Linked DNA regions of Homo sapiens. The protein of the gene in region 2 purifies or fractionates together with the protein of the main gene of each other region. This does not show direct contact. Each region holds a gene or a part of one and is shown on either strand. Other genes may lie near its edges. The genes, in order: KPNA3, CTDSPL2, KPNA1 and STK35.

Region 1 (7,028 bases), on a different chromosome or scaffold from region 2:
TAACCATGCTTAGTCTTGTCCATTAGAAACAGTACAACTTAGCTCTGTAACTGAGTAGTTGTGGTTATCAGGCTGTTCCAAAACAGTGAGATGCACTTTGATAAGCTATGATGCCTATTTTTTCACATATAGGATAGACAAAAACTAAAACATGTTATAAATTATAGAAGCAGCTGATACACAAGATGTTAGGTGCAAGAATAAGATCCATACTTGTTAAAGAAAATAAAAGGATAGAGTTATGCCAGGGGATTTGAGTAGAGAGAGGGTTGAGGAAGAAAATTTCTTTGTCATTCAATCGAGAGAGACTTTAAGAGATCTTTGGAGAGGAAAAAAAAAATGAGGTTAGTGAATCTTATAGGAAATATGTACCAAACTTAAAAGGGGCATGTTAACTGGTGAATAAATATCCAGGTAAAAAAGAAGAGTGATTATATTAAAGAGAGGAGACTTCCAGGTGGCCTGTGTTGATGCAAGAATATCTTGTGGCAAAGAGTTGCTTGGAAGCTTTTTCTTAATAGGGAGATGTGAAGGAATTTATTCCAGAGCAAAGAGGAGATGTAACATGATTAGAGCAATGGAAAGGGTGACAGGGCAGTAATACCTAGAATTCATTTTGGAGAAATAGCGCTGTTGTCTGATCTGCAAAGAAGAGTTTTCCAAAAAATTGAGACTGGGAATGGCTACAACCTGGAATGAGGATTTGATGATGCTGTTCTTCCTCCCTCTTCCTCCTCCTTCAAATTCTCTTTATAAAGATCACTGAAGAGAAAGGGAGTAAAGGTTATTCTGAGGTTTATAAATGGAGGAAGGGAGGGAGTAATTATCATCACTGATAGAAATTTGGAGCTTGGGTAGGGGATGCATTTTGTAGCAAAAACTAGGAAGTACATATTGAAAGGGAAACATTTCCTTTTATTTGTTCTGGAATGTGCTTTTTTTTTTTAAAAAAAAAAAAAAAAAAAAAGAGGGTCTGGCTCTGTCGCCAAGGGTGGAGTGCAGTGGCCCAATCTCGGCTCACTATAACCTTCGCCTCCTCCCAGGCTCAAGCCGTCCTTCCATCTCAGCCTCTTGAGTAGCTGGGACTACAGGCACATGCCACCACACCTGGCTAATTTTTGTGTTTTTTGTAGAGACGGGGTTTTGCCATGTTGCCCAGGCTGGTTTCAAACTGCTAGCTCAAGTTATCCTCCTGCCTTGGCCTCTAAAAGTGTTGGGATTAGGGGCATGAGTCACCATGCCCGGTCCTGGAATGTGCATTTTAATGCTAGACCTTTTCATGTAAGGCATTGATTCTTAAAAACTTTTCCTGTTTTCAAAGATAACTTATAGAAAAGTGTGCAAAACAGAAATGTTCTGTTTAATGAATAATTACAAAACAAATGCTCAGGTAACTGCAATCCAGGTCAACTCATTTTCTTGCTGCTGTATACCTCAAGGGTGTGACATTTTCATTAGTAACAGTAATTAATTATTTTAAAAACCTTAACATTTATTGTTTACAGTATATCAGTGCTAAGTACTTTATATAGATTATCTATTTAATCTTCACAACAGTCCTATATCAAGTAAGTACTATTATTATCCCCATTTACTGCTGAGGCAACTTGAGGCCTACAACCCTTAAGTAAGTGGCCTTAAGTCTTCCATCGGGTGTTAAGTGGCAAAGCCTGGACTTACAATATATCAAAGCTTTATGCTAAGCGGCTGGGCGCAATGGCTAACGCCTGTAATCCCAGCACTTTGGGAGGCCGAGGCAGGTGGATCACCCGAGGTCAGGAGTTCGAGACCAGCCTGGCCAACATGGTGAAACCCCGTCTCTACTAAAAATACAAAAATTAGCCGGGCATGGTGGCGCGTGCCTGTAGTCCCAGCTACACGGGAGGCTGAGGCAGGAGAATGGCGTGAACCCGGGAGGCGGAGCTTGCAGTGAGTCAAGATCGCACCACTGCACTCCAGCCTGGGCGACAGAGCGAAACTCCGTCTCAAAAAAAAAAAAAAAATACAAAAATTAGCCGGTCCTGGTGGCTCATGCCTGTAATCCCAGCTACAAGGGAGGCTGAGGCGAGAGAATCACTTGAACCGGGGAGGCAGAGGTTACAATGAGCTGTGGTCATGCCACTGCACTCAAGTCTGGGCGACAGAGTGAAACTCTGTCTCAAAAACAAACAAATAAAGCTTGATGCTAAAGCTAGAACTCTTGCTTACTGTGCTGTACTCCACCGAAGGGAGTCTAAGACTTGACATGTACAAACCACGCCTGAAAGTTAGTGAATGGGGAAAATATTGAAGAAATATCGACTATATCACAGAAATTGCTATTTCTATACTTTAAAACCTTGCAAATTTTTGATGAACTTTACTATTAGATTTATTTGCCTTTTTATCTTTTTACTCTTGCAAAGTTTCCTTCTTATCAGCAAGGAGCCAGTTGGTTGGTTTTACCAAAAAATGATAATCCGTATCTTTGGGCTTAACACTTAAGCTTTATGCTTTAGTTTCTGATACCAGGGCTAATATATATTTTCTCACCTGCAAAATTCAGTTAGCTCTACCAGACTTGCTTCTGTCTCTGGAACCTCCAGTGCTAAGTGGCACTATCTGATTGTCCAAGTTTAAGATTCTATCCTTGACTCCCTTCTCTTCCCCTCCTTCACCCTTCTTTGTATTAGTTATCTGAAGAACCCTCATGTTTGTACCTGTTACCAACCTTACTTCCTCTGCCCCTAGTTTAGACCCTTATCTTTGTTGCCTGAACAAGTATAATAGTGTACCTAGCTCTTCTGTGTTCAGTATCTTCTCTCCCCAGTGTATCTTGTGGATTGATCTTTCTCATATCTTTCTGTGTTACTTTCCTGTTTATGATCCTTCCCATTGACTTCAGGATAAAAGTCCTTAGCATGCCACACATAGTTGTAAGACCTTACCTTTTTTACCTCACCTTGCACTTTTCCTTATATCTCCTTTGTGCCAGCTGTGATAAAGTACTGGAGATGCTTGAGTAACCAGTAGTTTCTTCTTCATGCCTTTGTATATGCTGTTCTGTGTGCCTTCTTTTGACTATCTGTTGAGTTGGGGTTCACTCTGGCAACCTATCTCTTCAGTGAGACTCCTTCATATATCTCTGGAACACCAAGATTACAATTCTGCCACACCATGTCATTCTAGTTAAAAACCAAAAACAAAAAAAAACTTTAAAAGTTCTCCATGAGCCTTTCCTGACTTACAGTATACTTGGTACTATCAGTCCCTATTCTTTTCCTCCTCTCTAGTGTTTTCCTAGGTGAATTTTCCTTCACCTATTTGGGATAAATTGCTGTGATGTACAACAAATTCTGTGTTTGTATAGCTATTAAAGTATTTGGGCTCTGTTGAGAAGCTCAGTGAGAATAGATACCTTGGATGTAACTTGAAACATGAAACTTAATGAGAAGAGAGACTAGATGATATACCTGAAAAAAGTCTACATTTGGGAATGAAAGGTTCAGTATTATTCTAAGACATTAATTTTCTTTTGGTGTTGACTCCATGGCATTGATACTGTTGCCTAGCCCTCCTTGAACAGCCTGTTCTCCTATAATGTATTTCTGTAACATGAACTCGCTCATACTTGAATGGTTAATAAAAAAATGTTAAGGCAAAGTTCATATTGGTTCATATGTGATTTTTAGTATCACATTAATGTTTAGCACTCTTAAATAACAACAGTTGAACATAAAGTACAGAAACAGTTGAACGGATCAAGCCCAGGAGTATGCATATTGGCCATGCACCCATGTTCTGCCTCTTGGCTCTGTTTAACCATATGCAGTGTCTAAAGGTGCTTAACGACCATCCATCCTGTGCATTTCCCTCTTCTTCCTAAGTTTGGAGAGTGTAAAGTGTTTCAGGAATCTATATGCCATATAGCAAACAAACTTTTTTTTTTTCATGAATTCACTAATGGGGCATATACTGCTTCCTGGTTCTCTTGGAGTACTCTTTTTCAGTCAGCTTTGGTAAGTCTTCTTCCTACCCTTTGAATGTAGTAGGCATGGCTTGGGATTCTGTCTACGATTCTTTTATCTGTAGACTGTTTTTCTTGCTCATATCAGCAACTCCCTTGGCTTTAATCATCATTTCAATGTGCGGGGACTTAAATTTCATAAAATCATCTGCTGGAAATTATTCACATGAGCATCTTTTTAGCTTCTCAAGCTCAAAGTGTTTAAAGCCATGTTCTGCCTTTGTTTTTTCTTTTTTCTGTTTATGGCATCATCACCCTCACTGTGACCTGAATTTGAAACTTGAGAGGCTTCTTGGACTTCTCCTCTTCCACATTCAGTCAGATGCCAGTTATGTAGCTCGAATCTCTGTGCTGTCTCTGGATTTTGGCCCTGCCTCTATATTCTGCTGCCTCCAGCCTACTTTAGGCCTTATTACCTGTCACCTTCCTGTTTAAAAACTATCTCCAAAGTGGTTTTCTTCCTTTAGTTTATGAGATTTTTCAGTGAGCCTGATGCCTGATTATTTCTCCAGATTCAGCCTTCCTCCCCCACCCCCTTAAGCCCTAGCAACACTGAACTTCTTATATGCTTATACATAATCTGGAATCCCGCCTGCCCCTCCTCGCCAGTGCTATTTCTATTCTCAGGGCCATCTTGCTGACTGGAATATCCTTCTCTGCCTCCTGTTGCCTGGCTAATTCCTACCACTTTTAAATACTCAACTCTGGGTAGGTACCATTCTTTGCTCCTGGAAGAAGTCTGAGTGTATCTTTCTCGTTGCAATTATGATAATGTATTTTAATTAGATTTTATTTTTCCTACTAGATTGTGAGCTTTTTGAGGGCACAGACTATGTATCTTCATTGCCTACCACTTAGTACAGTGGCTAGAACCAAGCAAGCACTAAAATATTCCTTGAATAAATACATCGTAGGCACCGCAGACACAATAATTTTTCCCATGTGTATTTTTGAACTGAAATGTTTACTCTTTTAGTGCCTTTTCCTACTGCTTCCCAAATCAACTCCAAGCTTTTTATTATGACAGGTAAAGTTCTGGGAGATTAAGGTATATACATAGTGAATGAATTAGTGATTAAGGCTAATTTGTATGGCTAAGTAACATTCTATTGTATGTATATACCACATTTTGTTTACCCATTCATCTATAGATGAATACTTGGATTGTTTCCAACTTTAGTCTGTTGTCTCCCAACCATTTAAAAATGCCACTAATTTGTTCGGGTCAGTTTTCTTTTATTAAATTGCACTATATGAAATTGCTTTTTTCCAGGTTTGTAACAACAGCCAAGTATTGGCAATTTCATATTTAGCCTAATAGACTGTCCTAATTACTGGGTTTGTCTGTTTCCTTCTGGTGGTGCTTAACTGGTTCCTCTTATTTGTTTTTTTACCACCCTTCAGATTTTTTGTAATCTGGAAGTTTTTTTAAAAAAAAATTTTTAAACATTATTTTTGAGACAGAATCTTGCTGTTACCTGGGCTGGAGTGCAGTGACACGATCATGGCTCAAGCGATCCTCCTGCCTCAGCGTCTTGAGTAGCTAGGACTACAGGTGCACACTACCATGTCCAGCTTATTTACTTTTTGTAGCGATGGGGTCTTGCTGTGTTGCCCAGGCTGGTCTTGAACTCCTGTCCTCAAGCAGTCCTCCCTCCTCAATCTCCCAAAATGCTGGGATTATAGCCATGAGCCACTGAGCCCAGTCTAAACTGGAAGTTTGATTTAAAGTCTTGATTAGCTTCAAGTTAAGCTTCTATTAATTTATTTAAACTTCAGTTGGTGGTAGTGTGTACCTTAGAATATATCTCAGTAATGATAATAAGAATGATCGTAGGGTTCAGGTGATAAAGAACAAATAGTTTAATGCCATCAATGTGAAAGTTACTTAACAGTTTGTGAAGTGAATTTTAGTTATTTGGGGGAAATGGGACATGAAATTGATGACATTTCAAGAAGTGGAAAAAAAAGTAACTTCTTGGTATCCAGTAAAGGAGTTACAAAGTGTATATCTAGAACTTCTAACTTCAGAGTCAGTAGGATTTTCTTTCTATGACTGACACCACTCCTCAGTTGACCTTTTGTTTAGTTAGCATACGGTTTGGCTGTACAGCTGGCCCTTTGTAACCTGTGGATTCGTAGGGCTGACTGTACTGTGCCATTTTATAGAAGAGATTTGAGCATCTGCAGATTTTAGTATCTTCGGGGGAGGGAGCATCTGGAGCCAACCCCCCCGAGGATACAGAGGGAGGACTGTATTCTCATTTTCAAGTGGAGGTGAAGGAATATTAAAAGTATAAGGAGGATGTAGCTATCCTTTCTTGCAGTTTTGCTGTTAAGAAAAATTTTCTTACAGCATAGCCAACATCAGCAGTTAAAATATGGTAAAATAAATCATGACTATATTTACTTGGAATTAATCATTCTTGGTTTTCTGGGTTAGGGAGGTTGTATACATACTAGATTTTACTTTATTTTGACACTTGCCTTAAATAGAATATAATTTAGTTGTTTTCTTGGTTCTTGAGAATCACCATTATGCATATGGATATTGGGTTTTGCTTTTACATAAGTGATGCCTTCAGGTTGTTAAATTAACAGAATTTTCTTCTTGATTTTTACGCTTGTGGAGTTTTTGCTCTTCTTAATTTTTTTGGCTTGTCCTTCCCTTGCTTTTGGTCTATCAGCTTTCTTTTGATACTGTCAGCATATTTACTTGTGGTAGCCCCTATGTTTCTTTTTATTTGATGCTTTACATATTCTAGTGACTTGGGAAACAGATTTATTAAACATTTATTTAGCTTTTTTTTTTTCTTTGAGACAGGGTCTTGCTCTGTCACCCAGGCTGGAGTACAGTGGCACAATCACGGCTCACTGCATCCTTAACTTCCCAGGCTCGAGTGATCCTCTCAAGTAGCTGGACAGGTGCACGCCACCACGCCCAGCTAATTTTTTTATTTTTTGTAGAGACAGGGTTTCGCCGTGTTGTCCAAGCTGGTCTCAAACTCTTAGGCTCAAGTGA
Region 2 (7,028 bases):
GAGATTAAGACCATTTTTCAGGGAATTCCTGGAACGAATGTCTCAGATGTATGAGGTAAACATGCTTAAGCTAATTACATATGTATTTTTATTTTATTCAATATAGTACCCATATTTAGACCATGTATAATGATTACTTCTTTTCCCCTGAATTTATAGATCATTCTTTTTACTGCTTCTAAGAAGGTGTATGCAGACAAGTTACTGAACATACTAGACCCTAAAAAGCAACTGGTCAGGTAAATTTAATTAAGAAATAGTGGAAATGTCTGTCACACTGATCTATGAAATTACTGATTCTATTTCATTTTAATGGCCATTTTCAGTTGGCTGCATATGTGTTGAATGGTGAATATAAATGAATTTTTTAAGCCCCTAAACTCTTTAAAAGAGTTCCTAATGATGGAACTCCAGACAGACGTTCTTTAAAGGATACAAAGATCCAGTGCCTTTATTCACTGTGACATCTATATCCTCATTTCTTTTGGGATTGGGGAAGACGGGGGTTGGGGGGGTTGTGTGGAATTTTTCCACGTTGTGCATGATGTTTCATCTCCATATGTCTCTGAGGTAATGCATGTTAATTTACTTTTTAATGGCATAGAGAAATAAAAATTATTTTTTAACAGAAAGGATCAAATTAAGCCCTTGCTTTTTTTGAAAGCAAATTTATCTTCCATGGAAAGAAAATGTTACATGAATCTGATTGGAAATTACAGTGGGTTTAGTCACTCAGGTTATCCTGACTGGACTCAGTTCCTTGTGTGTGCCCTGAGCCAGCAGATGCAGTGTTTTCCTGGTTAGTGGGAGTGCCGTGGTGATTTTAAAATATTATGATAATTAGTTCCATTATTTTGTCAGCTGAAGTGAGATAGTAAGACTGCAGCAGTCTTGCTGTATCCTTTAAGAGGAGGGGTTAATCTTTGAATTTTTGATCAAAAGCTGAGAGAGATGACACAAACGGCTCATAAAAGCTTTAATAGGGCCAGGCGCGGTGGCTCACGCCTGTAATCCCAGCACTTTGGGAGGCTGAGTCTGGCTAATCACCTGAGGTCAGGAGTTCAAGGCCAGCCTCACCAATATGGAGAAACCCCGTGTCTCTACTAAAAATACAAAATTTAGGTGGGCGTGGTGGCGCATGCCTGTAATCCCAGCCACTCGGGAGGCTGAGGCAGGAGAATCGCTTGAACCCGGAAGGCGGAGGTTATGGTGAGCCGAGATCGTGCCGTTGCACTCCAGCCTGGGCAACAAGAGCAAAACTCCATCTCAAAAAAAAAGACTTTAATAGCTGGGTTGGTTGGTTGGTTCGTTCGTTCTTTCTCTCTCTCTTTCTTTCTTTCTTTCTCTCCTCTCTCTTTCTCTATTTCTTTCTTTCTTTTTCTTTTTTTTTTTTTTTGAGGCGGATTCTCACTCTGTTGCCCAGGCTGGAGTGCAGTTTGCAATCTCTGCCTTCTGAGTTTAAAAGATTCTCCTGCCTCAGCCTCTCGAGTAGCTGGGACTACAGGTGTGTGCCACCACACCTGGCTAATTTTTAGTGTTTTTAGTAGAGATGGGGTTTCATCATATTGGCCAGGCTGGTCTTGAACTCCTGACCTCAAGTGATCCACCCACTTTGGCCTCCCAAACTGCTGGCATTACAGGCGTGAGCCACTGCACCCAGCCCAGCTGAGTATAAATTTTCTTAAATACTTTTCCCATGTTGTCTTACTGGAAAATCCTAAAGTGTATTTTCTGCTGTTAACAGTACCTTTATTATTCAGTGGTTGCAAGTATACTGAAAGGCTTTTCCTAATGTTCATATTTTGGAAGGTTTTTTATTCTAAATAAAGCTGTGGTATCTTTTGTTTTTTAATCTAAAGGGTCAAAATAAGTAAGCTGCAGTCACACAAATGGGAAATGGTATTTTCTGTTCACAAAAGTATATTGTAATTTATGCTAATTTTACCTCACTTTACTAAAGTATACCCAGTGATTTTGTTTTGATGACTTCATTCATTATAATGATTTCTGTTCAGCATCTCCAGTATTCCAGGGAACAGTGGTGAGCAACACAAGCTCTTCCCTCTTGGAGCTTTCATTTACTAATGAGGAACAAATGATAGTCATGTTATGACAATGTGTTATAAATTAACAATCCTCTTTTAAACTAGATTTATAAAACCTACACACTTGAGGGTTTCCATTTGTTCTATCTAGATGTATTTTGAGAAATCTGAAACAAAAGCTTGTTTTTTTGTTTGTTTGTTTGTTGTTTGAAACAGTCTTGCTCTGTCACCCAGCCTGGAGTGCAGTGGTGCGATCTTGGCTCACTGTAAACTCGGCCTCCCAGATTCAAGCGATTCTCCTGCCTCAGCCTCCTGATAAGCTGGGATTGCAGGCGCGCATCACCACGCCCAGCTAATTTTTGTATTTTTAATAGAGACGGGGTTTCATCATGTTGGTCAGGCTGGTCTGGAACTCCTGACCTCGTGATCCGCCCACGTTGGCCTCCCAAAGTGCTGGGATTACAGGCGTGAGCCACCGCGCCTGGCCAACAAAAGCGTTTCAAAGAGTAGATTGTGAGTGCTATAGGGAATTGTCTGTGTTGGTGACAAGGTAGACTCTAAGAAATTCCTATGATCTAGGCTGAGTGCCGTGGCTCACGCCTGTAATCCCAGCACTTTGGGAGGCCAAGGCAGGCGGATCACGAGGTCAGGAGTTCAAGACCAGCCTGGCCAACATAATGAAACCTCGTCTCTACTAAAAATACAAAAAAAATTAGCTGGGCATGGTGGCAGGCGCCTGTAATCCCAGCTACTCGGGAGGCAGAGGTTGCAGTGAGCCGAGAGTCTGCCATTGCACTCCAGCCTGGGCGACAGTGGGAGACTCCGTCTCAAAAAAAAAAAAAGAAGAAAAAAAGAAATTCCTGTGATCTCTAAATCTCATGAGTTTCTAACACAAGTCTGTACTCACATGGATGATCTGCTCTTTGATGACTGGTACAAATAGTTTTTTTCTAAAAATGCAAATACATGCTATACACCCTCAGATTCCTGAATGAATAATTGGAAGGCTTTTACTGTAATTTAATTAAAATAACTGTAGTATCCACGTACAGATTCAGTTGTCTCCTGTCTCAATGAGTTTGCCACTATCGGTGAAGAGGCATCAACAGTGACTTGAATTTACATGCTGTATCTGCCTTTCCAGTTTCCTCATATCTAAATGTTTATAGAAATAAAACAGTGAATCTTATTTAGGCCCAACCAAGGCTTGAATTAATTTACTTAGTCTTTTTTGTTGTTGTTTTTTCAAAGTAGAACTGACTAAACTTTCCCGGGGCCAGATGATCGTTTGACTGTGATTATTAAAGTTATTCCTTATAATAAGGGGGAAAGAACTGCTTATACATTTTGTCTGTTCGTTAAATTCTTCCTTTTTGCCATACCAACTGGCACTGATAATTTTAAGGTTGAGTTTTTATTTGTGTGTGTATATGTAGATTTTTATTTATTCTTGGTAGCACTGTGACAGATTTTGTGGGTAGAAAATACCAGTTTCTTGAAATTGCATAATTTAAAATACAGGTCCAAATAGGTCCTAGATTTTGTAAAATTGTTAGTGTGATTAAGACACAAGGAAGACAACTTACCAATTATTAATATATACAGAATAGAGTACTTCAAGGTAGAAAAAAATTATATGAAACAATTATTAGTAATGTTCAGAGACTAGTATTTTGAGTATAAATTGAGATTATAATAATCACTTTAGTATTGTAAAACCTTTAATAGCTTTCTAAAATGATGTAGTATTTTTCTATGTGAGTGAAATATCAGTTTACATTTATAATACTTGATACTTAAATCTGAATTCCTCATTTCACTTAATCTTTTTTCAAATGATCATACACATATACTAAAAGAGGGGTGTTTAGGAAAAGTTGAAATGATGGAATGTTTTGGTCTTAGGACCTTTTCTCAAAAAAAATAAGGAAATCTAAAAAGCATTTTTTCAAATGCCAACACAAAAACATTCCTTCTTATATTTTCTATTCTGGCATGTACAGGGATAGGGAGGCTGTGTGGTCCACTGGTTAGAGCCAAGGACTGGGAGCCAGGAGGATCCTGGGTTCCAATGCGGGGCTAACCACTGACTTACTGTGTGACCTTGGGCAAGTCACTTGACCTCCTTGTTCCTCAGTCAACCATCTGGAAAATTGGTTAAAAAGCAGGACCTCGCTGACAACCAGATGCTGCATCTGAGCTGAGCTTTCTTGGGTAAATAAATTACAAAAACAATTTAGAGTTTTTAATCCCCCTTTATAATTTAATAATAACATTTTGGGATAAACTCAAGTTCTTTAAGGCATAGTAATATTTGGTTGTAAGCTTTCAGTAATTGCTTAGAATTTTTATAGTAAAATGGCAGCCCAACGCTTAGACCCATATTTGTGTTTGAATTTCCTTCAAGAGAGAAAATCATATGGCTTAAACTATAAAGCCTATGGTGTATATATATGTGTATATGTTCTACTTTTTAGAAAGTTTTTTTTTTTTAATTTGTTTTTATTTTTATGTTTAGGCACCGGCTTTTCCGTGAACATTGTGTTTGTGTACAAGGAAACTATATAAAGGACTTAAATATTCTTGGAAGAGATCTTTCAAAAACTATAATAATTGACAACTCACCACAAGCCTTTGCATATCAGGTAGGAAGAAAGTTGATAAACAAACTCAGATTGGAAAAAATACAATGAAGACACATGCTGCCAAACAGAATATGATGGGAGAAGAAGAAGAGAATTTTCACTGGTGGAATTTCCCTTTAATGTGTCATTTTTTTAGAATTAGAAATGACAAAGTGGTATATTCCTTTTGGAAAATTTTTACTTAAATGACATGCAGCATAAATGAAGAAAAACCTGAGTAAGAAAACTATAAGATAAGCATCATTGAATAGCATTCTTATCAGTTATTAAATCAGTAATTAGTAATTTAATCATAAACATATTTGAGTACTATAGTTAGTTTATGTTCTTCTGGTCTGGTTATTTGGTTTAATGTTCTGAAATATTTTCTTAGACTATTTTGTCAATATATTTGTACCCTTTGTTAATATTTCTTTGACGTATAACTACAAATGTAGATGAGTCATCCTTCCTTCCTTTTGTTTTTTTGTTTTTTTTTGTTTTTGTTTTTTGAGAAGCAGTTTCACTCTTGTTGCCCAAACTGGAGTGGAGTGCAATGGCGTGATCTTGGCTCACTGCAACCTCCGCCTCCTGGGTTCAAGCGATTCTCCTGCCTCAACCTCCCGAGTAGCTGGGATTACAGGTGTCTGCCACCACGCCTGGCTAATTTTGTATTTTTAGTAGAGACGGGGTTTCTCCATGTTGGTCAGGCTGGTCTCGAACTCCCGACCTCAGGTGATCGCCTGCCTCAGCCTCCCAAAGTGGTGGGATTACAGGTGTGAGCCACTGCGCCTGCCTGATGAGTCATCCTTTCAAGGTATATTTTAGATTATGAATATGTCCATGTGATATGATTTCTTTTTTCTTTTTTTTGTTTTCCTTTTTTTTTTTTTGAGACGGAGTTTTGCTCGTCGCCCAGGCTGGAGTGCAGTGGCACGATCTCAGCTCACTGCAGCCTCCACCTCCCGGGTTCGTGATTCTCCTGCCTCCACCTCCTTAGTAGCTGGCACTACAGGTGCGCGCCACTATGCCGTGCTAATTTTTTTGTATTATTAGTAGAGACGGGGTTTTGCTGTGTTGGCCAGGCTGGTCTCGAACTTCTGACCTCAGGTGATCCCACCTGTCTCAGCCTCCCAAAGTGCTGGGATTACAGTTGTGAGCTACCACACCCAGCCCCATGTGATAGGATTTCTTAGATTTGCTTCACAATAAGCCAGTCCAGAATAGGGATGATGCAAAGTGGATTGGAGTATAAACTAGATTTGTCCTGTGTTTCAAAATGTCTATAATAAAAAGAAAACAAGTGAAAAGCTGTATATGATACTAAGTTATATTTAGGTCCTTACTTTTATTTGTTTACATTTAAAAATGTCTTTTAAGAATTTCATCTTGGTTCCTAGTTAAAATTATATCAATTATCCTCCATCTCATATACAACATTTAGCCTAAATTTTAAAACATTTTATCCCAGAGATTATTCACCATAAAATAAATATGGCTTGCATTCTTGTTTTTAGGCTCCTCTTCAATGAAATACCATTAATTTGTTAAGTTTCTACTATATTTCAAGTTATCATCCTACTCGATGGGAATAGAATAATGAATGGGAGATATGGTCACTGTATTTAAGGGGAAAAAAAAGTATAGGCTTTTCTATATTCTCTTTAGATTGGCAGTGTCCCATCATTCACAGTGCCTACCTAGCATTGTACTAATTGTAACTATTTCTTGAAGGAATAATGGAATATTTTATTTATATTAATGATCCTTATAAAATGTATTTTAATGGAACTTTCTTGTTTAGTTTTATATACTCTGAGAAGAAATGACACTGAAAAACCAATAGGCTTCAATTTATTTCCTTATCCTCTGTCTCTTGCACTATTGAGTTGTCAAAGAAAAGTCTGGTGACATTACTTTTCAAAGGAACTTTTAGATCAGTGTTTACTTAATAAATCTTTGTTTATTTTTTAACTTTTTCCAAACTAGGTAAAATATAAGTAAAAGAGGATTTAATTACTTATTTATTGTTTTAGCTTTCTAATGGAATCCCTATAGAAAGTTGGTTTATGGATAAAAATGACAATGAACTCCTAAAATTGATTCCATTCCTGGAGAAGCTTGTAGAACTGGTAAGTGTAGCTTATCTTTTTCTGTTGTGTTTTTGTTAGCTCAACTATATTGAAATAAATATTTTTAAATGTCTTTGCTTTGTGTGTACTGACTTATAAAGTCAACTGTGAGCCAGGTCACAGGTGCCATCATAGGCGCCTGTAGTGCCAGCTACTTTAGAGTCTGAGGCAGGAGGATTGATTGAGCCTAGGAATTTGAGGTCATACTAGGCAACATAGTGAGACTC
Region 3 (7,028 bases), on a different chromosome or scaffold from region 2:
CTTCAGTGTTTTAGCACAGTGTTTGTTGAATTAATGATAAAATAGAGTTTTAATGATTTATGATGTCTGTGCTTTTAAGTCTACCAGATTGTTTTTAGATGTATGAGTACTGTGTATAAAATCAGTTAAGACCTTTGATTGGTCTTGCAAGTAAAGATGACTGACCTAGTGATAAAGATAACTCCTTGTTTTGTTTTAAGGTATCTTTGTACTTTGCATGGTGTTATGAATTTAGCCATAATAGGGAAGAAAACACTGGAAATGGTAAACAGTTAAATTAGCTGATTTGGGCTGATTTCTGTCTTTTGCTGCAGTAAGCAGGAGATGGCCTGAGGCCAACTGAGGGCCAGATAGGGCCTGCATTAGAAAATTTTGAGGTTGTACATTGGAAGAGTAGGGATGAAGACTGTGGGAATGTATGTTTCTTTCTTTCTTTTTTTTAAAGATGTTACAAACCTACAAAACAACATGAAAAAATGGTTCTGTCCAAGTGTTGTAGACTAATTGGGACAGTTCTTGAAAGCAGGCAGTAATCCAGAATGTGGATAATGGAGATAATCTCCTTCATATTAACAAGAATAATGCTGCCCTTCATATACAAAGATAAGTCTGCTTACTCATCATGATTGTTTTTCCAGCGTGAGGAGGGATATGTGCTGAGTCCATGAGTGCCTATATACTCTGTGAGCAACAAGGCAGGTTGGGGTCAGAATAGGCAGCTTGGGGTCAGAATAGGCAGCTTGGGGTCAGCTAGGGAACAGAAAGACCCGCTGAAAGTACTCTGACATCTATTGATGGGTCAGGTTCTGCATCAGGTGCTTTCACTTACTTGTTCTTGCAAAACCATTTTGAGGAGGTGATTACGTGTGCAAGGTGATTGGGTAACTCGCCTTACTTCACAAAGTAGTGGAGTTGGGATTCAAATAGGGCTGTTTGTACTGTGTTCACATTGATCGTTAAAGATTGGTTTTAGCCGTTCAGTCTCTTTGGCAGAACAAACTAGATGTAGTTTAACACCATGAAATAATACTGAAGATCTAATATAACCGTCGTGAGATTGTTCAAGTTCCTTGTTTTATCAACATTAAAAAAATAAAATTTTGGAATTAGAATACCTGAAAAGCAGCTGTTCCCTGTCCCAGCCTCTGCACTTGAAAAGCTACCATTTTCTTTCTTCTAGCTGTTTCCTCTTGTGTTTGCTTTCATATTTATAAATACAGTGACTTGCTTTTATTGCTATATCATGATATAGCAATTATAGATATTATTGGCTTTCGTCTAAGCAAGATGTTCCTTAGTGTTTCACATATATATTCACCTCACCTGCCATATGCACACACTGTCTCTACCATCCTCCAAATATAGTTATCACAGGTGTGTCTACTAAACCAATATTTAGTGTTTACAATATTGTAACTCTATAAATGTTCACAGCTGACCCATGTAGAGTACTGTGATATCATTTCTTCTCTTAATAAATTTTTGTTTTTCTACAAGTTAGTATTTTTTGTTGTTGTTTGCTTCATTTCCTGAGACAGCTAACCTGGAACCTCTTAATGCAATTAGGACTGGTTACTTTCTAGGCCTATTTCATAGTTGTTATCCAGGGACTTCTCTTTTCATCATCCTTAAACTTCTTTGCCCTCTTTTGTACTGGTTCCCCTGTTTACTGTTTCCTGTATTTTCTTTCTTGGTTTACTTATTTCCTTGGAGTACATTTTTTAGTAGCTTTCTGAGAAAGGATACATGGAAAACAAAAACTTCCTGACATCTTACATGACTGAAAAAAATCTTTATTCTTCCTTCGCATTTGATCAGTAATTTGTCTGGGTATAAAATTCTGAGTTGAAAGTAACTTCTACTTCAAGTTTGCAAGTCATAGTTCTATTGTTTTCTTTCTTCCAGGGTTACTCTTGAAATCCAAAGCCAATCTGATTCTTTGTTTGTATGTGATCTTCCTTTACCCCAATCTCTAGAAGCTTTTAGGATATTTTTAACCCTCAAAATTCCATGATGATGTGTCTAGGTATGGGTATTTTTTTGTTTAAGGGCATTCCATGGACCTTTATAAGCTGGGAGTTCATGTCCTTTAGTTCTCGAAAGTTTTTGTTATTATTTGGATGTTAGGCAAAAAGAATTTTAGAATGAATTATGCTTCTCAGTTCTTGTCACACATCAGATCGTACAAGGTCCTTTAAATTTTTATCTTAAATTTCTGAGCCCTACTTCTGTTACCTCTTTGTATAACATTGTGGTTGGTACATTCCTTGATTATATATGAAACATTGTAAAATATGTAGTGGAGCTGTGTATGTTTAGGTATTGTGTTATAGACCTTGCAAAGGTCTTTTTCTTTTTTATTCAACATTGATTTGGGGATCTTTCTGTTTTGTTGTAAGTATGTATAGTTGTGTCTAATGTAGAATTCTGTAATGCAGATCTACCACATTTTACTTTTCATTCCCTAGGAATTGATCCCTGAGTTGCCTTTCTGCTATTTCAAATACCCTGTGTTATATATACTCTTGTACATTATTATAGACCTGTATAGAAGTTCTCTAGGATATATACCCAAGATTGTGATTCCTTGGGCATAGAGTGGGAGAATTAGTGTATGTGCCTACTTGAGTGCTTGAGAGTTCTTTTTTGCTCACATGTTTGCCTTTACTTGGTTTTATCTTTCTTTTTTTTTTTTTTGTTTGATAGAGAGTCTTGTTCAGTTGCCCAAGTGAGTGCAGTGGCATGATCTTGGCTCACCGCAACCTCTGCCTCCTGGGCTTAAGCCATTGTTCTGACTCAGCCTCACGAGTAGCTGGGTTTACAGGGGCCCGCCACTACGCCTGGCTAATTTTTGTATTTTTAGTAGATACGGGGTTTCACCATGTTGGCCAGGCTGGTCTTGAACTCCTGACCTCAAGTGATCCACCCTCCTCGGCTTCCCAAAGTGCTGGGATTACAGGCGTGAGCTACCGCGTCCAGCCTCTCATTCTTATTTTATAGTATATTTGTGTTGTTTCATAGATGCTGTATTCTTTCTGGGGATATTAATGATAGTTTTAAAAATTTTGTTACCATTGTTGTCTTTTCTTTATTGAGGCTTTCCCCAGATGTCTGGTAGTCTTGTGGCTGTCCATTCATATTTAAGAATGAAGTGCCAAAAACTGAATTGGAAGCTCTATTAAGTGTGGCTTGTTGAAGGGTGAAGAGAGTAGCTGGTGGCCATTTTTTTTGTGGTGGGTGGAGGGCATATACTCATAGGTTTGTTTCTCTTGGGCTAGTCAGTTTCCCTGAGAGTCTCCAGTCTCTTGCCAGGAGAATGTGTGTCTGGCTGCCATGTTTTGAGAACTCATTTTAGAAAAGGAGCTTGGGTTTTTACTGTTGTGCTCATGTAATTCTGTTATCAATAAGGCACCTCACCCCCACCCTCACCTGCATTGGAGCACCCATTTGAAGGGATTACTGAAGGATGGTTGTCTGGTTGTGAAGAGTGGAGGAGGAAATCTGGGCATGTGATGGCTGTTTTGTAGACTTTCAACAAACCTTCTGATTTTGAGCCCAACTCCTCACTACCTTAAGGAGGGATAGTACCTGGATGATCTGTCTGAAGCATCCTGTTTGTGGGTAGGTAGTGTGAATCAGCTTGTTTCTTATTGCCTTCTTCGTTTGCAGGTTAGGCTTCAGAGTTTTCCACTTTGCTAGTGACATATAATTTGTCTATTTTATGGCTTCTTTTAGGTTTTGACACCATCTCTGATTCTTTTGCTTACCTATTCTCTTTATGCCGTGGTTCTGGTTCATTTATTTGAAAAAAAAATTTCTTTATAATTTTAGTATTCTACCATGTCTACCATTTTATTTCTTTACATAAACTCTTTGTTTTCTCCTCTGTTCATTTTTTCACAGCATTTGAATGACCACTGTGTGCCTATTGAAGATTAAAATTGAATTTCTGGCTTTGAGTTAATATGATATGGGAAGAAAAGTGCAGTCTATATGTGCTAATTCCTGATTTGAAATTTGAAAACCCTCATAAGTGTTCTTAAAACAGATATATTACAGTGGTTATTAAATTCATTAATGGATATGAATTGAATGAAGGCAAGTTTTTGCGATTAAAAATTTTTTTACTACTGAGGGAACGAACCCTTTATGTCATCTTCTGGAAAGATTTGTCTTTTTTTTTTTTTAACCCCCCAAAAAATCATTCAACTTTTAGATAAGAGATAATTTTTCTCCTTCATAAAGACCATAAAGATCAGAACTTCTGAAGAAATAACAGCATACTCAGTTGAAAAAATAGTAGTGAAAAGTATAGAAATTCAGTGTTTTAGGTAGGTTGATAAGCTTTATCATAGTAAACATATGCTTTCAGCTCTACTTTTTGAAAGTTTTTTTCTTGTATAATCAGTATATTGCTTATCACAGAAAATTTGGAAGATAAAATAATATTTCCATATTCAAATTTTATATGCTGATATCTTCTCTTTTCTTTTTTTTTTTTTTTGAGATGGAGTCTTGCTCTGTCGCCCAGGCTGGAGTGCAATGGCACAATCTCAGCTCACTGCAACCTCTGCCATCTGGGTTCAAGTGATTCTCCTGCCTCAACCTCCCGAGTAGCTGGGATTGCAAGCGCCCGCCACCACGCCCGGCTAATTTTTGTATTTTTAATAGAAATGGGGTTTCCCCATGTTGGCCAGGCTGGTCTCGAACTCCTGACCTCTGGTGATCCGCCCGCCTTGGCCTCCCAAAGTGCTGGGATTACAGGTGTGAACTACTGCGCCCAGCTATATTCTGATTTCTTAAGTTACGAAATATTTTTCGAAAGTATAGAGAATAGTGTAGGTTGGGTTTTTGTTCCCAGCATTCAGATTTTTCATGTTAGTGTTCTGTTTTCTCAATACATTGTGAACATTTCCTTTAACCAAGCCCTCATATTGGAACTTTTAGGTTTTTTACAATTTTTCACTAGAATAATCACACTGCAGTGAACAGTCTTACACATACTACTAGTTTTGTTTCCTTTATGTACATTCTAAAAGTGGAAGTATTCAATTCAGGGTTTGAGTTCTCCAGATCCTTGACAGATATTTTCCTTTAAGTGTTTTGATATTGAGAATGTCTTTGGAGAACTTCCCAGCTTGGGAACCTATAGATACTGGGAGTTGGGGGTCAGAATTTGGGGCAAAGGTTATGATAAACCTCTCAAAGGAAAACATTTGAAACTGGGCTGTGAAAGAAAATATGTATTGCCATTGGATTATTGGTTAGAGCTATAAGATGAGGCCAGAGATGAACACCTATGAATCATATGTCTGCCACATTGACTTCTCACAGGAAAAGCTTTATTGAAGGGTTTTTCAAACTTTGCTTTCATTGAACACTGAAATGCTCTTAATAAAAATAAAGCTACTCCTTAATTATCGTATAGGAAAAGAATGGGTAGGATATTTCAAATTTTAATTTTCTTTTCTAATTTCTATTAAAATATTTTAAACGGACCTACTATCGTTTGACTAGAAGCTGTTAACATCAATAATTTATATTTTCAAATGAACTGAACACTTTATACTTATACTCCACTTATTTAAATTCATAACTTTTTTGTAGTCATACTTTCTTGTAGTTTTGGTTTTTAATAGTAAATGCATATCATATACTTTCTAATAAAATTATGCCTGATTTATATGGTGGAATTAAGTATATTAGGATTTCAAGTTGTTCCACAAGAGTATTATGGATTTTAAATATTCAGAACATTTAGAATGTGTTTGAGATTTACTGATTAGGTGGGCTGACCCAGTGCACTGAATATATAACATCTTGAATATAATAAAAATATAAAAAGATCTACACTCATTGTTTTGGGTTTAGAGTGGTGGAGAATGGTATTGAATGAATCCAGACAAAAGGATCTTGCAGGACCAAGAAGTTTAGACTTGTTCTAAGAAGTGGTTAAAAACGTTGTAGTTCCTTATCCATTGAAGTGATACAGTGAAAAGGGTGTTGAGATTAATCTGAGGGCTGTGTAGGATGAATTGAGGAGCAAAGAGTCTGAGGTTAAGAATGCTGGTTTAGAGCTGTTGTAGTTATCTAGGTGTCAGTTGACACAGACTTGAGCCAGGCTGGTGGCAGTGGGAATAGATCGGATCAGATAAAATCAAAGACTTTGGATAGAATAAGCAAAATTTGATAATTGAGTAACTAGACATGAAGGAGAAAGTGAGGGGATCTGTCTTTGAAAGAGTGTGTTTCTATTTCACCACCAGTATTGCATCTTGTTTTTAAGTTTATTGCTTCTTTGGCTTTATTTCTCTAGAAAACAAGAGGAAATTTAGGTATAATGGCTTTAATTTTGAAGGCTTCTGATTCCTGAGAGGGTACTTTGAAAAGTAACTTACAATTTTTAATTAGTAGCTTAGGTGATAACACCTAAAAATATTTGCTTAGGATAAACTAATTTTCTCATACAATTACTTTGTTATTCCTCTTATTACAGACATAGAGATTTATTTCCTTTCTTTCCTATCAAAGCTATCTTCAGTCCAACTTCAGCCTTCATTTTCAACTGTATTTTACATTGTTTTAAAATAAAACTTTTGCTCTACTATAGTGATTTTCAACTGCAGATGCATATCAGAATTTGCTTGGATTTTTTTTTTTTTTTTTTTTTGAGGCATGCAGTGGTACAATCCTGGCTCACTGCAACTTCTGCCTCCCGGGTTCAAGCCATACTTATGCCTCATCCTCCCAAGTACCTGGACTCACAGGTGCATGCCACTATGCTGGCTAATTTTTGTATTTTTAGTAGAGGCGGGGTTTCACCATGTTGGCCAGGCTGGTCTCGAACTCCTGACCTCAAGTGATCTGCCCGCCCCTTGGCCTCCCAAAGTGATGGGATTACTGGTGTGAGCCACTGTGCCTGGCCCACTTGGGGATCTTAAAAGGAAGAAAAACCCAGAGGTGTCTGTCTGCTTCAGACACATTAATTAGACTCTTTAGAGGGACATTTGAGGCTTGTGTTTAAAAAA
Region 4 (7,028 bases), on a different chromosome or scaffold from region 2:
TTATCCAGACTACTCGTGTCCCTGGCGCACACCCACCTGCTCCTGTGCCCACTCCCCTCATCCTGGGAGACGCAGCTGCAGGGCCTCTCGCAGTTATTCTCAGCCTGCCTTCCTCTCATCCCAGCTTCTCTCCCAACTCTTCTGGCAGATCCGGGCCCGCTTCCTAGTTCTCACAGCTGTAGTCATTCTGCTTCTAATGACCAGAAGCCTATGTAAGGGCAGGGATGCCCCTCAGCTCACCGCACCTCTGTCTCAAGAGCAATGTGTGCTCAGAAATTGTTGAAGTGGCGTTGACTAAAACCTGGAAATCTAACTTCTGGAGAAGGCTTAAGGATAGGCTTGTAAAAATCTAGAGCATTTTGTATTTCTTTACAGGAAGTGCCTGTCTTTCCAAAGCTCCTACTGGCTTGTCTTTATGCTGAGCCTGCTGGCCTCACGTTTTTCAGCGAAGCAAGCCATGTTTTTATTGGGAACTTAAGCACTACTGATGAATTTCCATGACTAATGAGATGCAAGACACCTGCTTGGTTTTGTTCTTGGGTTTACTTTAAGCATCTTCTCTCCCTGTGGACTGTGGCATAGGATATGTTTTGAAATACATAATTTATATTATGGTCACCTGACTGTCAGACTTGAGGGAAAGGTAGTAAAACTGTCCCCAAAGGCAGGCCTGCCTCTCTTGGAAGAACACTTTTTAGCCCTCTGTGAGCTGGGAGACAGCATGGTCTGGGGGGAGGACTTGCTGTGGGGGTTCTCTCCTATCCCCCCCAGTTACTCATGGTAAGGGCCCTCGGGCAGACTCTGAAGCCTTTCTCAGCCTTAGTTGCCCCACCTGTAAAACGGTGCCTGGTAAGATGAGATAGCTCACATAATAAACTTTTAAAATAGTACCTGGAACCCAGTAGGCTTTCACAGGCTAATTTACCTCAAATCCTTACTATCTCCAAATAACCTGCCTGTTTTCTCCCTCTCTGGGAAGGAAGCTAAATTTGTAACTCTTATTAATCTTATACAACTGTCAGATTATACCAGACAAGGGAATTATAAAACTTAAGTAAATTTTATTTGTTCCTCTCAGCTCAAAAAACTGAATTTCATGTGGGGATTTTAGTGGTTGCTGCATATATCTATTCCAATTATATATCCTGAAACTGGGGAAATACCCGCAGTTGTGGGTGGGTCGGGAGCCCACTGTGAGATGGGCCTGAGCTGAAACTCCATGGATCACCTGCCCTCCATCAGTCCTGTTCTGACTGGTGGACCACAGTGACAGTTTGGTTCTTTGGGAATTAGTGTCTTTTTGGAACTTGTGTTCAGTAATCCCCTAAAGTTTGATTACTTTCCCTTCCTCAATGCACAGGCACCTTGGAAATGACTGCAGGTCTCCCTGGGGAGGCCGGAAGACTGAGTAAGAAATCTAGTCCCCCGACCTCAAAACATCTGCAGAATGTGCCAGCATTTCTCAGGGTTAAGTAGAAGAGTTAAGCCATAGATTGCTAACCAGAATATCTGGTATAATTTAATAAAAACTAAAATAAAAATATGAAACTAGGGCCTTGGCTGGTCAGAAGAGGGAAGTTACTGGGAAATCAAGTGAGTATAAGATAGACTGGTGTTGCAGCTAGCCTTAAGGTGCACATTTCAATTGTACCTGCAGAGATTGTGGGGGCAGCAGGCCTAGGGAGAGGGATCACTTCAAATAGGAATAGCCTGGTCTGCCTAGAACATGGGTTTCAGCTGTTACAGCCTAAGAAGTGTGATGTCTTAGATGGAATAATACACTTTCATTCTAAGATCTAAATTTCATCTTTTGCCTAACATGTAAAAACTTACTCTTACGGCCTACAGCACTGGGATTATTGAAATCGGTGACTTCCAAGGATTTGGTTGGGGTTGAGTGGGAATGATGATGTTAGTGATGGTCAGTGGTTCATTTCCCCAAAAAGATCTTACATTCTGCCAAATGTAGTTCCTATCTGACTTAAGTCACAGTACTCATGTGGTATAGTTTCATTCTCTCATTTGATAGATGTGAAGACTGAGGTACCAAAAAGACTGAGGCTCAGAGAGCTTCAGGGACTTGCCCAGGGTTCCAGCCATCTTTTCATCACACCTCAGTCTCCCTGTGTTTTCCTTGAAACAAAGAATCCACCCAGTGAGGCAGTGGTCAGAGTTGGGGTCTGAACCCAAACTCTTTGTTTCCTGGTCTGTGTTTTTCCTGTTACTTCACCAAGTGCCTCCGAGTGCCTGGCATCATCCACGTCGCCTCCTTCCATCTGGTCGTGAGGTAGCTGAGACCCCGTTAGACAGTCTGCTTGGAGTAAAGGACTAGAATTCTGACATGTTTGTTTTCTCCCGGGAGTTCGTGTGTGAAAGCATACGCTGCAGCTTCTCATGAAAGAAGTCCAGGGGCCTTTCCTGCGCAAAGAAGTACTTTTGAGGCCAGGTGCTATTGAGAAGCTGGGACTATTGAGGCCACTGCACCCGGCCTCAAAAGTACTTCTTTTGGAAGTACGTTGGGAAGCCAAGGCGGGAGGACCACTTGAGCACAGGAGTTGGAGGCTACTGTGAGCTATGGTCACACCTCTGCACTCCAGCCTGGGTGACAGAGTGAGACCTTGACTCGTAAAAATAATAACACTTTTGTATCTGGGACAAATAGCTGCACTCCCAGTTTTCCATTCTGTCATACCCACTGTTACTGGGTGTGATTCTGAGAATACTTCTTCCTGTCCAGAATTTTCCTCTCAACAAACAGCCCCTCCTGTAGCATCTCCTGAGTCTAGCTCCTTCCTCAGAGCAGCTCCTCAGTCCGAAGGTCCAGTCTCCCCCAACCACTCACAAACTTTGGGTTCTTTTTTTACCATTTTTTCTTTCCCTGGATTCTCATAACCTGGACTTAGATTATAGTCTGTTTTGCAGACTTGTTTTCTTTTTCCTTAGGTTGCCATAGTTACTAACTTTGTATATAAAATAACCATCATTCCTCTTCCTTTATTCCCCCACCAGAAGTTTCAGTGTTTTCTGATGTGGCCTTTGCAAAAGGAATTGGATGGCTTTTTGATCTTTTCCTTTCTGGTTCTACCTGTAGTACACATTTCTTGCTCTCCTTTTTGTGGGTCTTTAGCATCTGGATTGACTTGGGCTTCAGATTGATGCTTCATTGTGCAGTATTTTTACATAGAGGGCCTCTGCCCATGACCTAGATAGAGGATTATGAGAGGGGAAATAACTGATTTGAAAAGAACAAAAAACATCTGCCCTAAACTGGTTCTACCTGTATTACTTTGATTGTGAGTAATATAAGCAAATAAATTATATAATTACAAGGGAAGTGAGGGCTATCCGATTGTGATCAAAAACCTAAAGCTTTTGTTTTGTGTGTCACATCATCTTGGCTGAACCCAGAACTCTCAGACCATTGGCTTTAGTAGACTGTGAGCCTTGGTAATTTCAGGCTGTTGGGGTTAGCAGAGCCTCACCTAGATCACTCGTTTTCTTTGTAATAGAGTAAATGACTAGTAAAAGGAACCCTCTGCCAGAAGCTGTCTGAGGAAGTGCAGTCATTTTTGGTAGGATGCATACTCCATACTGGGGCCAGAGAGAGGACTTCTCTTCAGGTCCTGGCTCAGTTACAAATGACCTTGTGACCACCCAGAACAAGCCAGCACATTTGCAGGCCCAGCCTCTCCTCATCAGTGAGATAAAACATCTGCCTTCTTACACTTAGCTTTGGGAGCAGTTGTAGTCATCACATAACATCCACATAAAGATTCACTGGACTGTCAGTTGCTTTATAAAGAACATTGAGATTTGCTTGGAGAGGTTGGTCACCAGCTTTCCTAGAGTTTCAAGCCCACACAATTTAAATCTGTCTTGTACATCGACTTTAGACTCCACTGTTCCCACCAGACTTCCAATTTACACCTTTCTGGTCTTTTTGTCCCTGTGTTCCATCATCCATTCCATCTTTCAGCCTAGAATTACCTTCCTGCTCCCCCACTGATCTACTGCCTGCCTTTTACAGGGTAAGTTCAGTCCTGCCCCCTCTGACACCTTCAGATCTGGCCACTCCTGCCCCCCCCTTCACTGTTTATATGAGTTGACCCTGATGGAGATGTACATTCAGATCTGGCGACTCCTGCCTCCGCTTCACTGTTTGTAGTAGTTGAGCCTGATGGCGATGTACAGCTTTTGATGGTTGCTGCTGTGGATACCTGTCATCTCCTTGAAACTAAGCCTCATAGAGGTGGAGGCATGTTATGTACCTAACTTGTGCTAGGCATGTGGTGGGCTTGCAGAAAATATTGATGGATCGGACTGTGCCTCTGAAATAAACCAAGGAAATTGTAGGAGTGTGCCTCTGAAATAAAGGAAATTCTAGTGCCATTCTAGGTGCATTAACAAGAATCCTTCTACAAGTCAGGAAAAAAGAGAGGGAAGGTCATTTGCTCAGCATGGAGTAACAATGATATTAGAAGCAACAGACCCGTGACAGCCTTCTTGCATGCTTTCCCTTGTCCCATCTGCCCAGCAGCTTTGGGAGGTGTGGGTGGTATGGCACTCCCTGTTTGGAGACAGTATAATGAAACAAAAAGGCTTCGCAGTCAACCAGACGGCAGTAAACCCGAGTTTCCACCTGGGCCTCATTCCAAACCCAGGTACCTGACACCAGTCCCTGGTGCCTGTGTCATACCTTAGAAAGGCACTCAGTGCCAGTTGTGCAGGTCCCCTTGGAGCAGTTGTTTGTCACCAATGTCACTCTTGAATACACTGCATCCTTTAGTTAAAAAGAAGTGTGACTGTGTCCATCTCACTCAAGCTCCTTCCTGTCTTCTTTGATTTAGGAGAAAGGATCCTGGGTTATGCTGAGGAGCCCTGCTATCTCTGGTTTGTCATGGAGTTCTGTGAAGGTGGAGACCTGAATCAGTATGTCCTGTCCCGGAGGCCAGACCCAGCCACCAACAAAAGTTTCATGCTACAGCTGACGAGCGCCATTGCCTTCCTGCACAAAAACCATATTGTGCACAGGGACCTGAAGCCAGACAACATCCTCATCACAGAGCGGTCTGGCACCCCCATCCTCAAAGTGGCCGACTTTGGACTAAGCAAGGTCTGTGCTGGGCTGGCACCCCGAGGCAAAGAGGGCAATCAAGACAACAAAAATGTGAATGTGAATAAGTACTGGCTGTCCTCAGCCTGCGGTTCGGACTTCTACATGGCTCCTGAAGTCTGGGAGGGACACTACACAGCCAAGGCGGACATCTTTGCCCTGGGCATTATCATCTGGGCAATGATAGAAAGAATCACTTTTATTGACTCTGAGACCAAGAAGGAGCTCCTGGGGACCTACATTAAACAGGGGACTGAGATCGTCCCTGTTGGTGAGGCGCTGCTAGAAAACCCAAAGATGGAGTTGCACATCCCCCAAAAACGCAGGACTTCCATGTCTGAGGGGATCAAGCAGCTCTTGAAAGATATGTTAGCTGCTAACCCACAGGACCGGCCTGATGCCTTTGAACTTGAAACCAGAATGGACCAGGTCACATGTGCTGCTTAAAATTCAGGGCTAAGCATTTTGGGTGATTTTAAACTAGGTGAGTGCTCTCTGTTGTTGTTTTTTGTTTTTTGTTTTGAGACAGGGTCTCACTCTGTTGGTCAGGCTGGGGTGCAGCGGGTGCAGTGGCAGGATCTCAGCTCACTGCAACCTCCACCTCCCGAGTTCAAGTGATTCTCGTGCCTCAGCCACCTGGGTAGCTGGGATTACAGGCACCTGCCATCATGCCCGGCTAATTTTTGTATTTTTAGTAGAGACGGAGTTTCACCATGTTGGCTAGGCTGGTCTCAAACTTCTGACCTCAAGCGATCTGCTGGTCTCAGCCTCCCAAAGTGCTGGGATTACAGTTGTGAGCCACCATGCCCAGCCTCTCTTTTTTTTCTGTATGCCCACTTCTTGGACCGGGTTCTTCATTCTGGACCCTGGCATGGGCCCTGTGAACTTGCAGGGGAATACAAAGTTGAAGAAAATGAAGTGCTTCTTTTCAAAGATCCCCCCCATATCTTGATGGGAGAAACGTGCAATTATCTGAGTACACGTTGGAAAGTCTAGAGAAGTCTTCTCAGAGGAGGTTGCGTTTAAGCCGAGTCTCCCTTTTTTTAGAAACGCTCTTTCTCATCATTATAAATGCTCACTGTAGAAAATGTGCATAAGAGGTAGACAGGTTTTCAGAGAATAAACACTATCTCTGATTGTATCCCACCTACTCACACATCCGGTTCCACATAGTTTAGATCTTGCCCTAGTTGGTCAAGGTCTTTTTCTTTTTACTCATTACTAATCTGAGCATTCCTCCATGTCATACTTTAGAAGTATGGCTTTTCAGGGACTGTATGACATTCCCATTATATGTACCATAATTTAACCATTCTCCTACTTTAGAAAACAGATTTTTTCCATTTTAGATACTATAAAGAATGTATTAGTGAATATTTATGTAGAAGTCTTTGCTTATTTAAAAAATTTATTCCAAGGTGGGCGGATCACGAGGTCAGGAGATCAAGACCATCCTGGCTAACACAGTGAAACCCCATCTTTACTAAAAATAACAAAAAAATCAGCCAGGCGTGGTGGCGGGCACTTGTAGTCCCAGCTACTCGGGAGGCTGAGGCAGGAGAATGGTGTGAACCCGGGAGGCGGAGCTTGCAGTGAGCTGAGATCGTGCCACTGCACTCCAGCCTGGGCAACAGAGCGAGACTCCGTCTCAAAAAAAAAAAAAATTTATTGTGAGTTTTCCTTTGTGAAGTACAGTCATGCTCCGCATGAACAACGTTTTGGTCAAAAAGGAATGGCCTATATGACGGTGGTCCCATTAGATTATAATGGAACTGAAAAATTCCTATTACCTAGTGATGTAGCTGTTGTAATGTTATAGTGCATATTATGGTGTATGTGTTACCTTTTCTGTGTTTAGATACACAAAAACTTACCATTGTGTTACAACTGCCTATAGTATTCAGTACAGTAACAT

Evidence for each region.
Region 1: the proteins of CTDSPL2 (region 2) and KPNA3 purify together in Homo sapiens (affinity purification with mass spectrometry; 2 studies listed by BioGRID and IntAct, with this or other methods). This does not show direct contact.
Region 3: the proteins of CTDSPL2 (region 2) and KPNA1 purify together in Homo sapiens (affinity purification with mass spectrometry; 3 studies listed by BioGRID and IntAct, with this or other methods). This does not show direct contact.
Region 4: the proteins of CTDSPL2 (region 2) and STK35 purify together in Homo sapiens (affinity purification with mass spectrometry; 4 studies listed by BioGRID and IntAct, with this or other methods). This does not show direct contact.

What each region holds. Positions count from the first base shown.
Region 1 is NC_000013.11:49,782,657-49,789,684, reverse strand, and holds part of KPNA3 (importin subunit alpha-4), read left to right. Parts: intron 1-7,028. UniProt on the Homo sapiens protein: Functions in nuclear protein import as an adapter protein for nuclear receptor KPNB1. Binds specifically and directly to substrates containing either a simple or bipartite NLS motif.
Region 2 is NC_000015.10:44,514,606-44,521,633, forward strand, and holds part of CTDSPL2 (CTD small phosphatase-like protein 2), read left to right. Parts: coding exon 1-55; intron 56-159; coding exon 160-239; intron 240-4,563; coding exon 4,564-4,690; intron 4,691-6,705; coding exon 6,706-6,801; intron 6,802-7,028. UniProt on the Homo sapiens protein: Probable phosphatase.
Region 3 is NC_000003.12:122,504,917-122,511,944, reverse strand, and holds part of KPNA1 (importin subunit alpha-5), read left to right. Parts: intron 1-7,028. UniProt on the Homo sapiens protein: Functions in nuclear protein import as an adapter protein for nuclear receptor KPNB1. Binds specifically and directly to substrates containing either a simple or bipartite NLS motif.
Region 4 is NC_000020.11:2,111,819-2,118,846, forward strand, and holds part of STK35 (serine/threonine-protein kinase 35), read left to right. Parts: intron 1-4,847; coding exon 4,848-5,560; 3' UTR 5,561-5,597; intron 5,598-5,868; exon of another isoform or gene 5,869-7,028.